Linked DNA regions of Homo sapiens: region 2 is linked to region 1. A link means that fine-mapping ties the variant in region 1 to the expression of a gene that starts in the linked region. Tissue or cell type: whole blood. Region 1 holds a variant in brackets; the other region holds the start of a gene. All regions are shown on one strand. Distances are from middle to middle.

The links. PIP is the estimated chance that this variant, and not a neighbour inherited with it, causes the effect.
Region 2: PHOSPHO2 starts here. The variant in region 1 is the best candidate, but not a certain one, in a credible set for the expression of PHOSPHO2 in whole blood (TOPMed, PIP 0.80).

What each region holds. Positions count from the first base shown.
Region 1 is chr2:169,756,545-169,762,324 of GRCh38, forward strand. No RefSeq gene overlaps it. Among named protein-coding and RNA genes, the nearest start is that of KLHL23, 26 kb to the left of the region's middle. The variant C/T (reference allele first, on the strand shown) is at 2,989.
Region 2 is chr2:169,691,345-169,697,904 of GRCh38, forward strand. It overlaps PHOSPHO2 (phosphatase, orphan 2), which reads left to right and starts at 3,125. Exons shown (of 4, transcript NM_001008489.4): 1 at 3,125-3,278; 2 at 3,871-3,903; 3 at 6,017-6,187. It overlaps CFAP210 (cilia and flagella associated protein 210), which reads right to left and starts at 3,061. Exons shown (of 9, transcript NM_001085447.2): 1 at 2,917-3,061. The coding sequence starts at 2,983. PHOSPHO2-KLHL23 (PHOSPHO2-KLHL23 readthrough) reads left to right here and starts at 3,125. Exons shown (of 5, transcript NR_144936.2): 1 at 3,125-3,278; 2 at 3,871-3,903; 3 at 6,017-6,187. RefSeq lists an enhancer at 2,844-3,023 and a silencer at 3,154-3,433.

The sequences.
Region 1 (5,780 bases):
CACTGCTCCTCACTGCTTCAGGATGCTGTTCCCAGGCTGTAGCAGCTGTGGCTCAAATGACCCCAGGAACCCCAGATAAGATTGGTGCTGCTGCTCCAGAGGGCACGAGGTGGAAGCCTTGGTGATATCCACGTGGTATTAATTCTGCAGGCCCACAGAATGCAAGAGCTATGGAGATGTGGCTTCCACTTAGATTTCAGAGGATTTATTGGAAAGCCTGGGTGCCCAAGCAAAAGCCTGCGGCAGAGTCAGACCCTTCACAGCCAGCCTCTGCGAGAGTAATGCCTGGTGGATTTGCAGGAGGGCCACTGCCTTCCAGCCCCCAGAATGATAGAGCCACCAGCAGTGTGTACCTTCAGCCTGGAAAAGCCTCTGGCATTTGACTCCACCTTATGAGAGCAGCCACATGGGCTGCACCCAGAAAAGCCACAGGGATGGGTCTGCTCAAGGCCTCAGGACCCACCAGTGTGCCCAGGTTGTGGGACATAGAGGAGATTATTTTGGAGTTTTAAGATTTAATGCCTGCCCTGCTGGGTTTTGGACACGCATGGGGCCTATTACCCTTTTCTTTTCACTGATTTCTCCCATTTGACATGGGAATGTTTGACATGGGAATGCCTGTATAACCATTGTATCTTGGAATGAAATAACTTGTTTTTTATTTTACATGCTCATAGCTGAAAGGAACTGTTCTTGAATCTCAGATGAGATTTTGGACTTTGGACATTTGAGTTGGTACTGGAACAACTTAAGACATTTGGGACCGTTGAGATGGATGATTGTACTTTACATGTGGGAAGGACATCAGTTTTGGGGGCCAGGGGTGGAATGCTATGGTTTGGAAATTCTTCCCCTCCAAACCTCATGTTGAAATTTGATCCCCAGGATTGGAGATGGGGCCTAATGGGAGGTGTTTGAGTCATGGGGGCAGACCTAGAGCTGTGGTTGGCCAAGTTCCCTGCTGTTGGGACTAAGCTGGCGTGAATGAAGAGAACAGATACAGATGCCCAGTGACTGGGGATGGGGGATGATGTTAACGTCTGGTTCTAGGCCTTCCTGACACAGTTCCATTCCTGTCTTTTCCACAGTTGGATGGTGATGTGACCCAATAGATCCTTTTTTGTTTTGAATCAAGTTTCTATCTCTTGCAACGAAAAATATGCTAAGTCAAGGAAGGGCTTTGTCCCTTGTTAAAATGTAAATATTTTTGGAAAGTGTATTGTGTTTTCTATCACTTCTGTAAGAAATTACCACAAACTTAGTAGCTTAAAGTAATACAAATTTATTTTATAATTCTGCAGGATAGAAGCGTGGTACAGGATTCACCATATCAGTGTTAGGAGCCTTAATTCTCCTTTCCATGTAACCTGATACACAGATTCCAAAGATCAAGATGTAGACATCTTTAGGGGACCATTATTCTGCATACCACAGATAGTGATATATTGTCTTATCCTGACTTTCGCAATTCCATTTGATTTGAGAGGAGTTTCTGACAGAAAGAAAAAGAAAAAAACAAAAAACAATGATGGGTGTCAGGAACTCCTGAGGAGTGGAAGATAGAAAGTAGGTTTAGGAAAAAAAAAAAGAAGTTGGTGACAGGGTCATTGACTATTAGACCATTCTGCCAAGGGCTGGAAGCAAAATATAATGCAAGAGAAGTGACTAATTGTGTCAAAGATGTAGATTATCAAGAGCCCCAGGTCTTTTTGCATATTAGGAGGCCATGTAACTTGAATCTTAATTACCCTAAGCCAATCATGGATAGTCCATCCTCCTTGCCAGTGTTTGGTGGAGGAATGTATGTGAAGCAGTTCTAACCTCTAAGATATTAGAAGAAGGGTTCTAGGGGGGTGGTCCTCTACCAAAAAAAAAAAAAAAAAAAAAGGTTTTTGCTCCTAGGAGAGAGAAAGACTCAAGGTGATAAAGAGTTCATCTTTCTTGAGGCTAATATAAAAAGTTGTTTTCACATAATTTATTTGCCAATTATTATTTTGAGACAAAGTCTTGCCTGTTGCCCAGTCTGGAATGCAGTGGCCGGATCTCAGCTCACTGCAACCTCCGCCTTCTGGGTTCAAGTGATTCTCATTCCTCAGCCTCCCAAGTAGCTGGGATTACAGGTACCCCACCACCTCCAGCTAATTTTTGTATTTTTAGTAGAGATGGGATTTCACCATGTTGGCCAGGCTGGTCTCGAACTCCTGACCTCAAGTGATCTGTCTGCCTTGGCCTCCCAAAGTGCTGGAATTACAGGCATGAGCCACTGTGCCTAGCCCAATTATTATTAAATGTCAATCTATATAAGACAACCAAAGTATTTCATAATATCAAGTATTTCATAAGGTGTTTTAGCTATAGCAATTATTATTTAACAGCTAAGAAATAGAGCAGTGTAAGAAAATAATATTTATAAAGTTATGAAATATCAATACTGATATTAAGGCTTCATTAGGCCAGATGTGGTGATCACACCTATAATCCCAGCACTTTGGGAGGCCCAGGCTAGAGAATTACTTGAGGCCAGGAATTTAAGACCAGCCTGTGCAACTCTATCTCTACAAAAAAATCCAAAAAATTACCTGGGCGTGGTGACACATGCCTGTAGTCCTAGCTACTCAAGAGGTTGGGGTGGGAGGGTCACTTGAGCCTAGGAGTTTGGGGCTGCAGTGAGCTATGATCATGCCACCACACTCCAGCCTGGGTGACAGAGTGAGACCCTCTCTCTCAAAAAAAAAAAAAAAGAAAAAAAAAGCTTCATTAACTATCACAGTAGTAAATAACACAACTTACCAATGTTTCACATTTGAAAGACTCTATATGAAATTAATTCTATTGTCAAGAAATTAAATGAGAGGAATTCTCATTTTTATTGAAGGTAATAAATAAAGCATCACCTAACATTATATACTAGTCGTTTTTCTTATTTATTTATTTATTTTCTCTTGAGACGGAGTCTCGCTCTGTTGCCCAGGCTGGAGTGCAGTGGTG[C/T]GATCTCTACTCACTGCAAGCTCCACCTCCCGGGTTCACACCATTCTCCTGCCTCAGCCTCCTGAGTAGCTGGGACTACAGGAGCCCGCCACCACGCCCGGCTCATTTTTTGTATTTTTAGTAGAGACAGGGTTTCACCGTGTTAGCCAGGATGGCCTCGATCTCCTGACCTCGTGATCTGCCCGCCTTAGCCTCCCAAAGTGCTGGGTTTACAAGCGTGAGCCACCGTGTCTGGCCTTTTTTTTTTTTTTTTTTTTTTTCTGAGACGGGATTTTGCTCTTGTTGCCCAGACTGGAGTGCAGTGGCGCGATCTTGGCTCACTGCAACCTCTGCCTCCTGGGTTCAAGCGATTCTCCCGCCTCAGCCTCCTGAGTAGCTGGGATTACAGGCATGTGCCACCACGCCTGGCTAATTTTGTATTTTTAGTAGAGATGGGGTTTCTACATGTTGGTCAGGCTGGTCTCGAACGCCCGACCTCAGGTGATCTCCCCCGCCTTGGCCCCCCAAAGTGCTGGGAATACAGGTGTGAGCCACCACACCCGGCCAAGATATACTAGTCCTTTTACAAAAGAAGACATGTATGTGGCCAAAAAGCCTATGAAAAAAAGGTCGGTATCACTGATCATTAGAGAAATGCAAATCAAAACCACAGTGAGGTAATATCTCACACCAGTTAGAATAGCTATTACTAAAAAACGAAAAAAATAACAGATGCTGGTGAGGTTGTGGAGAAAGGAGAACATTTATACACTGTTAGTGGGAGTGTAAATTAGGTTCAGCCATTGTGGAAAGTAGTGTGGTGACTCCTCTAAGAGCTAAAAACAACTATCATTTGACCCAGCAGTCCCATTACTGGGTATACATATACCCAAAGGAATATAAATCATTTTACCATAAAGACACATGCCTGCAAATGTTCATTGCAGCACTATTCACAATAGTAAAGACATGGGATCAACCTAAATGTCTGTCAATGACGGATTGCAAAAAGAGAATGTGGTACACATACATCATGGGATACTATGCAACCTTAAAAAGGAGTGAGATCATGTCTTGTGGGAACATGGATGGAGCTGAAGGCTATTATTCTTAGCAAACTAATGCAGGAAGAGAAAACCAAATACTGCATGTTTTCACTTATAAATGGAAGCTAAATTCTGAGAATCCATGAACACAAGGGAGCAACAAACACTTTAGGGTGGAGGGTTGGAGGAGGGAGAGGAGCAGAAAAAATAACTATTGGGGCCAGGTGCAGTGGCTCACACCTGTGACCCCAGCATTTTGAGAGGCCAAGGCGGGTGGATCACTTGAGGTGAGGAGTTCAAGACCAGCCTGGCCAAAATGGCAAAACCCCGTCTCTACTAAAAGTATAAAAATTAGCCAGGCATGGGTGTGCATGCTTGTAATTCCAGCTACTCTGGAGGCTGAGACATGAGAATTGCTTAAACCCAGGAGGCAGAGGCTGCAGTGGGCTGAGATCATGCCACTGCACTCCAGCCTGTGCAACAGAGCGAGACTCTGCTTAAAACAAACAAAAAACACTGTTGGGTACTAGGCTTAATGCCTGGGTAATGAAATAATCTGTTCAACACACCCCCATGACACAAATTAACCTGTATATCAAACCTGCACATGTACCCCTGAACCTAAAATAAAGGTTGAAAAACAAAAACAATATAGTAGTCTTTAGTAAAATTGGGGTATATAAATTATAAAAATTCAAGAAAAGAAGAAGTTGTGACACAAATTTTATGGACTATATAGCAATGAACATAAAAATATGGCCAACAGAACTGTCTTCTTAAAATCCGGGGCATCGTCATACAGTCTTTAACTCTGAATTGAATTTCGATGTTATTTTGAAGTTGTGAGTCATAGACTGTTAAACTCGTACTGGGGCCCTCTGAGTTAAAAGATAATATTTTTGTGGGGGCCTCACTGGACGGGTGTTGAGCATCCTGCTCAAACCTCCAGTGAATATTGCAGATCCCAACTGGCCGCCTCCTAAGGGTGTTCTGAGCTGGTTTAGGAAGAGTCACTGCAAATTGTGCCACGTTGGATACACAAGATTGCCAACATTTCAACTTTTACCTTTGAAATTCAAAACAGACCACAAGATTGTATACCTACAAGTACCTACAGAGGTTCTCGTTGGGAAATCTGAAGTACCAGCACTGTATCCATCAGCCTTAATAGACTGTAGTTAATTATTACCCACTCCCCAACCTTTGTTCAGTGGCATTTAAAAGTCAGGCTGAGCATGTATAATCTGTGAACACTTTCAGCAGAGACTTGTGAAATACATCTTTCATTTGAAAGTTCACAGACAAACTTTTGTTTCTAGTTCTTTCCTGGACAGATAAATACATAAAAGTGGTACTTGTGGTTTCCCGAAGGTGTGTTTCTGCAGCCCTTCTCTAACCCTTTATAGCTTTTCCCTCCTCACACCTTGACCATCAAGGAAATGAGTCGTACCTTCTTCCCTGTCGAGAGAACACAGGCCCTCCTTGTGCGCGGGCAGACATTTGAGATTAGAGCTTTACTAGTTGTATGATTTTTTGAAAACTTTATTTACTGTTAAATATGATACGAATACAGAAATCCACATGAGACAAATGTACAGCTTGAGTTATTAAAGGGCAACTACCTTGCAACTGGCATCCATGTCAGGAGAGAATACCTTGCCAACTACCCCAGACACCCTCCACATGTATCTCCTAAACCCTTATCGATAACCTCTGTCTTCACTATGGGGATTATTTTCTTTCTCTTGGATATTATCCACCTGTATT
Region 2 (6,560 bases), 65 kb before region 1:
TTTGTTTTAGTTCTTTAAATATATTTACAATAGCTATAAATTTACAAAAGTTTGTATCTAGTAAATCCAACATCTGGGCTTACAACAACTGCAACTGCACAGTTTTAGGTCAGTTGGGGGGGCAGTCTCTGATTTCCTATCTTTTGTCCACCCCTACTTCTGTAGACATCCTCCCCGCCACTTCCACTCCCCCTTTCCCTCTTCCACCCATTCAACTGAGCACAAAATGGCCAGACTTCCACAGAGCCAAAAGATGATTATTGAGGATGCTTTCAACTTGGTGGAGTCCATTTCAAAGACACTTTCTATTGAAACCTTTTTCTTGTGTTTGGGTCATACTTTATTTCTTTTCATCTTTCATAATTTTTATTAAAAACTGTACATATATGTGTCAACTCTGGAAATCAGATTTCTACATACACCCAAAGTTTCTCATTCCTGCTGTTGTTGTTTGTTTCAGGACTTCTCTGAACCAATTCTGTAGTCTGTATTCTTTGTCACATGTGGCCACTGGAGTCACTGCAGTCTCTGGTTTGCTTAGTGGTCAGCTAATAACTAGACAGACATATCTTTGGATGACTGGAACTAACAAGTCTCCCAGTCTTTGCCAAAGGACTGTCTATGAGTATTAAGGCATGCCTTCAATGCTCGGGCAGGCAATTTACAACTCCATCTTAGCCTCTACTTCTTTCTTAAACAGAGTCTCAAGGTAAGTCATAGGTGAGAGGCATTTGCAGGTCTTTCCTGGGCATATACATAGCTCTATGCATGCACTTGGCCTTCTAGATTCCCAGGAATATGTCAGGAGCTTTCCAAAGCCCCCTATGGACATATCACTTCCCAACTGATCCTTTTAAGATTTTCGGTCAGCTTGTTGTTTGCCTCCCAACTGTATCACTGCCTGCCTGTTTCATGCTGTTATAACAGAATACCTGAGACTCGGTAATTCATAAGGAATAGAAATTTATTGGCTTATGGTTCTGGAGGCTGAGAAAGCTAGTATCGAGGTGCCAGCATCTGGCAGGGGCCTTCTTGCCGCATCATAACATGATGGAAGGCATTACATGGCAAAAGGGCAAAGAGAGGGCAACAGGCGCACGCACACACACACACACACACACACACACACACACACACCACACAGAGACAGAGAGAGAGAGAGAGAAAGAAGAGGGCCAACTTTCCCACTTTTATAATGAACCCATTCCCCAGATAATGGCATTAATCCCTTTACTCTGCCCTCATGGCCTATCACCTCTCATTAGTCCCTACCTTCCAACATTTTTACATTGGGGATTAAGTTCCCACACATGCCTCTGATAGCTGTGATATTTAAAATTGCCACTGAACATTTGACAAACATACTTGGTGAGTTTGAAGTCAGACTAAATAACAATAAGCCTCATGAGTGAGATTTTCCAAGGAACTATCAAACATGTCGAATAATAACAGTTGTCTGGCTTTGGAGTGGGTCAAATTCTGTTTTGTCCCCTCTACCAGTTGCTAAGTCACTATTTTTCACTGTGATTACTGTGGTTATCTAGGCTGACACGGGGCTGGGAGAAAAGTATAGGACTATGGCAAGTTAAAATGCCAAAAACCTTGCTGTTGTTACAAAAATCCAGCTGTTTTTCTTTAGTAAACACTCTACAAATTGTTGCAAGCCTTTGGTTAATTTCCAGAGTTCTGAAAAAGTCGATATTGATGATTTTTGCCACTGTTCTTGTTGATTTTATGGAGGAGAGGATTTCAGGCATAGATCCTATTTCACCATTCTGGCTGATGTCATCCCACTAAATCTTTATAAATTATTTATTTTACTAATAGCTGCACACATCTCTGAACCTCTCTCCAACTTAGCCTTCCCCTAAAAATGGAGATTAAAATTTAGCAGTGAGGCTCAGGTGGAAGCTTTTGAGCTAGTTGCCACAAAACATTATTTAACAACTATTAGGTAAATCTAAACCAGGTAGTGCAGAAATGCATATGCAGGAAAGTGAATGTGTGGGACTAATTGTGCTTTTCCAAAACTGGCCATGTTGGTACTGTTTCTTTCCTTTTACATGGCAAAAGTCCGCTGCTAACCTCATAAAACCTCCACTGCATAAATATCCACTAGTGAAGAATGACTGGCTGTCACTCTGCATCTGGTGCAGGGGGCACTATTGCTACAGAAGCTCGGGCAATGACATGAAGATACTTCAAATTGCCAAAGTTCTAGTTGTCACCATGACAACATTAATTGCTAATTTACAGACGTAAGAAACTGTTGTAGCTAGAATTGATAGAGTTCTTTAGAAGTCTATTTCTATTCCAAAATCAAATTGTTATAACAGGTCACCTGAATTACAGTACTTTATGTCACACGATTTTTTTTTAACTCTCTAAAAGCATTTGACTTAGAGAGAGACCTTATATTTACTTTAGAGAGGAGGAAATGGAGATATTTCCTTCAGAGACTTTTAGTAAAGACCAATCAGCAGGTTTGCAGAAGAGCCAAGCCTCTAAAGAGGTGACTTATATTTCCAAGAGATATTCCAATTCAATCAGTGAATAACAAACTTTAAGCGTGCGGGAAATTTAACAAAACCCAGACTCTCAGAGCTGCAACTGCGCAGTTTTAGGTCAGCTGGGGCTGGGGGTGGGGGTCTCTGATTTCCTATCTTTTCTCCACCCCTATTTCTGTAAACATTCTCCCACCCACTTCCACTCCCCGTTTCCCTCCTTCACCCATTCACCTGAGGGCAAGACGGCCTAACTTCACACAGAGCCCAAAGATGCTTATTGAGGATGCTTTCGACCTGGTGGAGTCCATTTCAAAAGGCAACTGAAGCCCTCATTCGGCATCCTCGCCTCTCACTCCATGCCGGGGGTCCAGAAACAATCCCTGTCCCTGGATAGGTCAGTTTAGCTCACCTGTACTTTCCTTCGCCCGTCCACAGCGCCGTCCAAACCGTACCAGCATCTCTGACGAGGTGTCCATGATGCTCCTAGATCTGGAAAAGTGACTGTGGCGCCAAGCGCCGCGGACGCCAGCCGGTGGAGTTGTTACTCGTACCACGCGGTTGCTTGGCAACGCCGCCGGAAGTGACGCCAGCCGTAGCCGAGGAACAAGGGAGGTGCTGCAGTTGGCGGTCGGGCTAGAGAAGAGAGGCGCCTGCGCTTGCGAGCTGGGCTTGTGAGTGGGGCTGCCGAGAGGGCAGGCGTGGGGCGAGGCCAAAGGACTGAACCCGCAGGAGCGTCACGGGCGCCGGGGCGGCTGCCGACGGCGGGACTGGGTCAGTGAGAAGCCCGTGGGCCCCCGCCCTGCCTGCTACTCCCATCCCCACCTGCGCGCTCCCCATGGGGGACGACCCCCGATTGGGTCCGATGCCTACCCTCGGGGTGGAGCCGGCAGGTGTGTGAGCGCGCGAGGCCTAGGCGTGGTGTGTGCGTCCGCAGATCTCCTCGCGGGTGGAGTGTGAGGAGCAAAGCCCTCCCTTAACTATAAAAACCCGCGGATTCGCTGACATAAACGCTGTTTTTTTAATCCTTTGGTTTCTGAGGCATGGTCAGGACTAGATGGGGCCAAGTTTTTTAAAAATAGGAATGTTAAAACGTAATGATATGCTTAGAATATTTACGTTAGGACCTTTGAGATATTTTAAATTTCTTGGTAAATACATGACCACAGAAATCTGTTAGGAGTAGCTGCGCGTTTGGTTTCAAAAGATGCTTTTCTAACACATTGATGTACAGATAACTTCATTACTAACAAGTTGGCTCTGACGTGTACACATAATGCACCAAATTGGAGTCTCTCAAAATGAAAGAACAAAAAGATTTTTAATAACGAATGTTCTAACACATAGTCGTGCTATTTTTCTTTAGGTTTTCTATCAGATGTTCCACGTAATAATGCTGGTAAGTATGGAATAATTAAGAAAATATTTGAAGACAGAAATTAGTTTGTGCACATACAGCGCTGGTAGGTTTTTGGAACTATACCTTAAAAAGTGTCAAGAACTGGGGGCCAGGCGCGGTGGCTCACGCCTGTAATCCCAGCACTTTGGGAGGCCGAGGCGGGCGGATCACGAGGTCAGGAGATCGAGACCATCCTGGCTAACACGGTGAAACCCTGTCTCTAGCAAAAATACAAAAAAATTAGCCAGGCGTGGTGGCGGGCGCCTGTAGTTCCAGGTACTCTGGAGGCTGAGGCAGGAGAATGGCGTGAACCTGGGAGGCGGAGCTTGCAGTGAGCCGACCATCGTGCCACTGCACTCCAGCCTGGGCGACAGAGCGAGACTCCGTCTCAAAAAAAAAAAAAGTTTCAAGAACTGGGAAGGAACAGAGATTTTTACCCTGTTTGCAGGCTAACTTAGCCTGGCAGTTTCATGGAAGACACAAGACTATTCATTTCAGGAATGAATTACTCCCAGCAGTAGCCAGTAAATCAGCAATTTCGCCTGAGTTCCCTAAAGCCCCAGTTCCCACAGGATAATGCAAAGTGGGCAAGAAGTCACCTAGATGTAGTGTGTGTCGAATTACAGGAAAGGAGCCCTGAGCTTAGGGAACCCAGATCTTTATCATTTGGACAAATAAGCATGTTTCTCAAGGCTGTCCAGTGTACAAACATCCTTGAGACAATAGTCTAGAGGAAAGGGCAGTCAGTAAGACATGCAGAACCACCAGAGACGCAGGGAAAATTGTCTCCCAACAACAATTTTCTGGAATTTTAACAAAATTGGTTACAAAAGTATTGAATCTCATGATTTGATGTCAGTTACTTGCCAATTTGACATGGTGGTCAGATATAATTTGACTTCAGACTCGAGATTCCAGCTCCAACCTGTGGATTGTCACAACCAAGTCAATCTAGAGTTATTTGTCCTATACCCACCACTCTTTTATTTCTTTGTTGTGAATTTAATAAGGTAGCATATGCACTCTGATCTGAAACAGAGTTTAAATTATTCTGAGAAGAAAAAAATTTTATTACAAAATTGATGTAGAAAAAGTGTGAACTACGGTTGAACCAACCATAACCATCCCACTGCACATGTAAACATTTTCTAAAACAAAAACAGGATTATACTGTACACACTATTTTGTGACTTGCTTATTTAATTTGAACTGAATATCTTGGCTTTTACTGGCTGGATATTCTGTTATTTGCTATCACATGCATATCTTACTTAATTATTTCCCAATTCTTGGATGTCTGTGTAGTTTTTAATTTTCATTATTGTGTAAAGTATGCAGGATATTGTTACACTATGGAAACATTGCAGACATACCAAATAGACATAGATTGTGCTTTTGAAGAGAACAGTTAACTTTTTGGAATTTTAACAAATTGGTTTCAAAACAGATTCACATTCTTAAAACTAAATCTTTGTTCATATTCTTAATTTTTGGAGACATTTTAATTTCTAGTACAGCACTAAATGTCTATTGACAACAGAATGTGGAACTCCTCTATTATTAAACAAGTACAAAGAAAAAATGGACTCTGAAAATCTCAATCAGCTTAACACTGATTTTATCCACTGGACAAAAACTTATTTTCACATAACATTTCTTATTTTCGACACCAAGTCGATACCAAGTGGAAAGCAAAACTTTGTTCTCCTATTGCCAAAAGATGCTTTTCTGACATTAGAAAAACAACATAATTAGAAAATACAAAAAAAAAAATTTTTTTTTTTTTGACACGGAGTCTCGCTCTGTTGCCCAGGCTAGAGTGCAGTGGCGCGATCTCGGCTCACTGCAAGCTCCGCCTCCCAGGTTCATACCATTCTCCTGCCTCAGTCTCCCAAGTAGCTAGGACTACAGGTGCCCGCCACCACGCCCAGCTAATTTTTTGTATTTTTAGTAGAGATGGGGTTTCACTGTGTTAGCCAGGATGGTCTCCATTTCCTGACCTCGTGATCCCCCGCCTCGGCCTTCCAAAGTGCTGGGATTACAGGCGTGAGCCACTGCGCCCGGCCTGAAAATACAAATGTTAAAGCTTTTAAAATACTTTTATTAATTTTAGGAGTTAAGAAGTTTCCATTATTTTGCTCCAAACCAGAAGACTCTGTTCCCTGTATATAGAATAGGAGTAATATTTGAAAACAACTGGCTGATGTTTAAAACTGAAGATTGTCATGATTGTTTATCCTAATCCCAATGCTGAAGTAAGATTGTCTTGGAAATACTAAGTTGGGTAAGTATTTTTTAAAGGTTTATGTTGAGTGGTGAGAAAATACTAACAGAAAAAGATGGGAAAATTTTAAAAGTGCACTTTCAGATCAGCAGGGGAACTATGTTACCTCAGTCTCATGCTATTTTGAGGCTAATAATTCAGGAATTTCAGTAATTTGTGGCTAATTAAGTTTAGGTTTGAGGCAGTTTTCAAACAACAGTGAGTTACATTTGAAATTTGTTTTAATTATAAATTCAGAATTCTCAAAAAGCATATTTAATTTAAAATGTGCCTAGTTACAGTACTACTGTGATTGTCAATTATGCCTTATTATTTATTACATTGTTTCTGTAGGAAAGTGAATTCTGCATTTAAATTTCAGGGAACCAGTCAG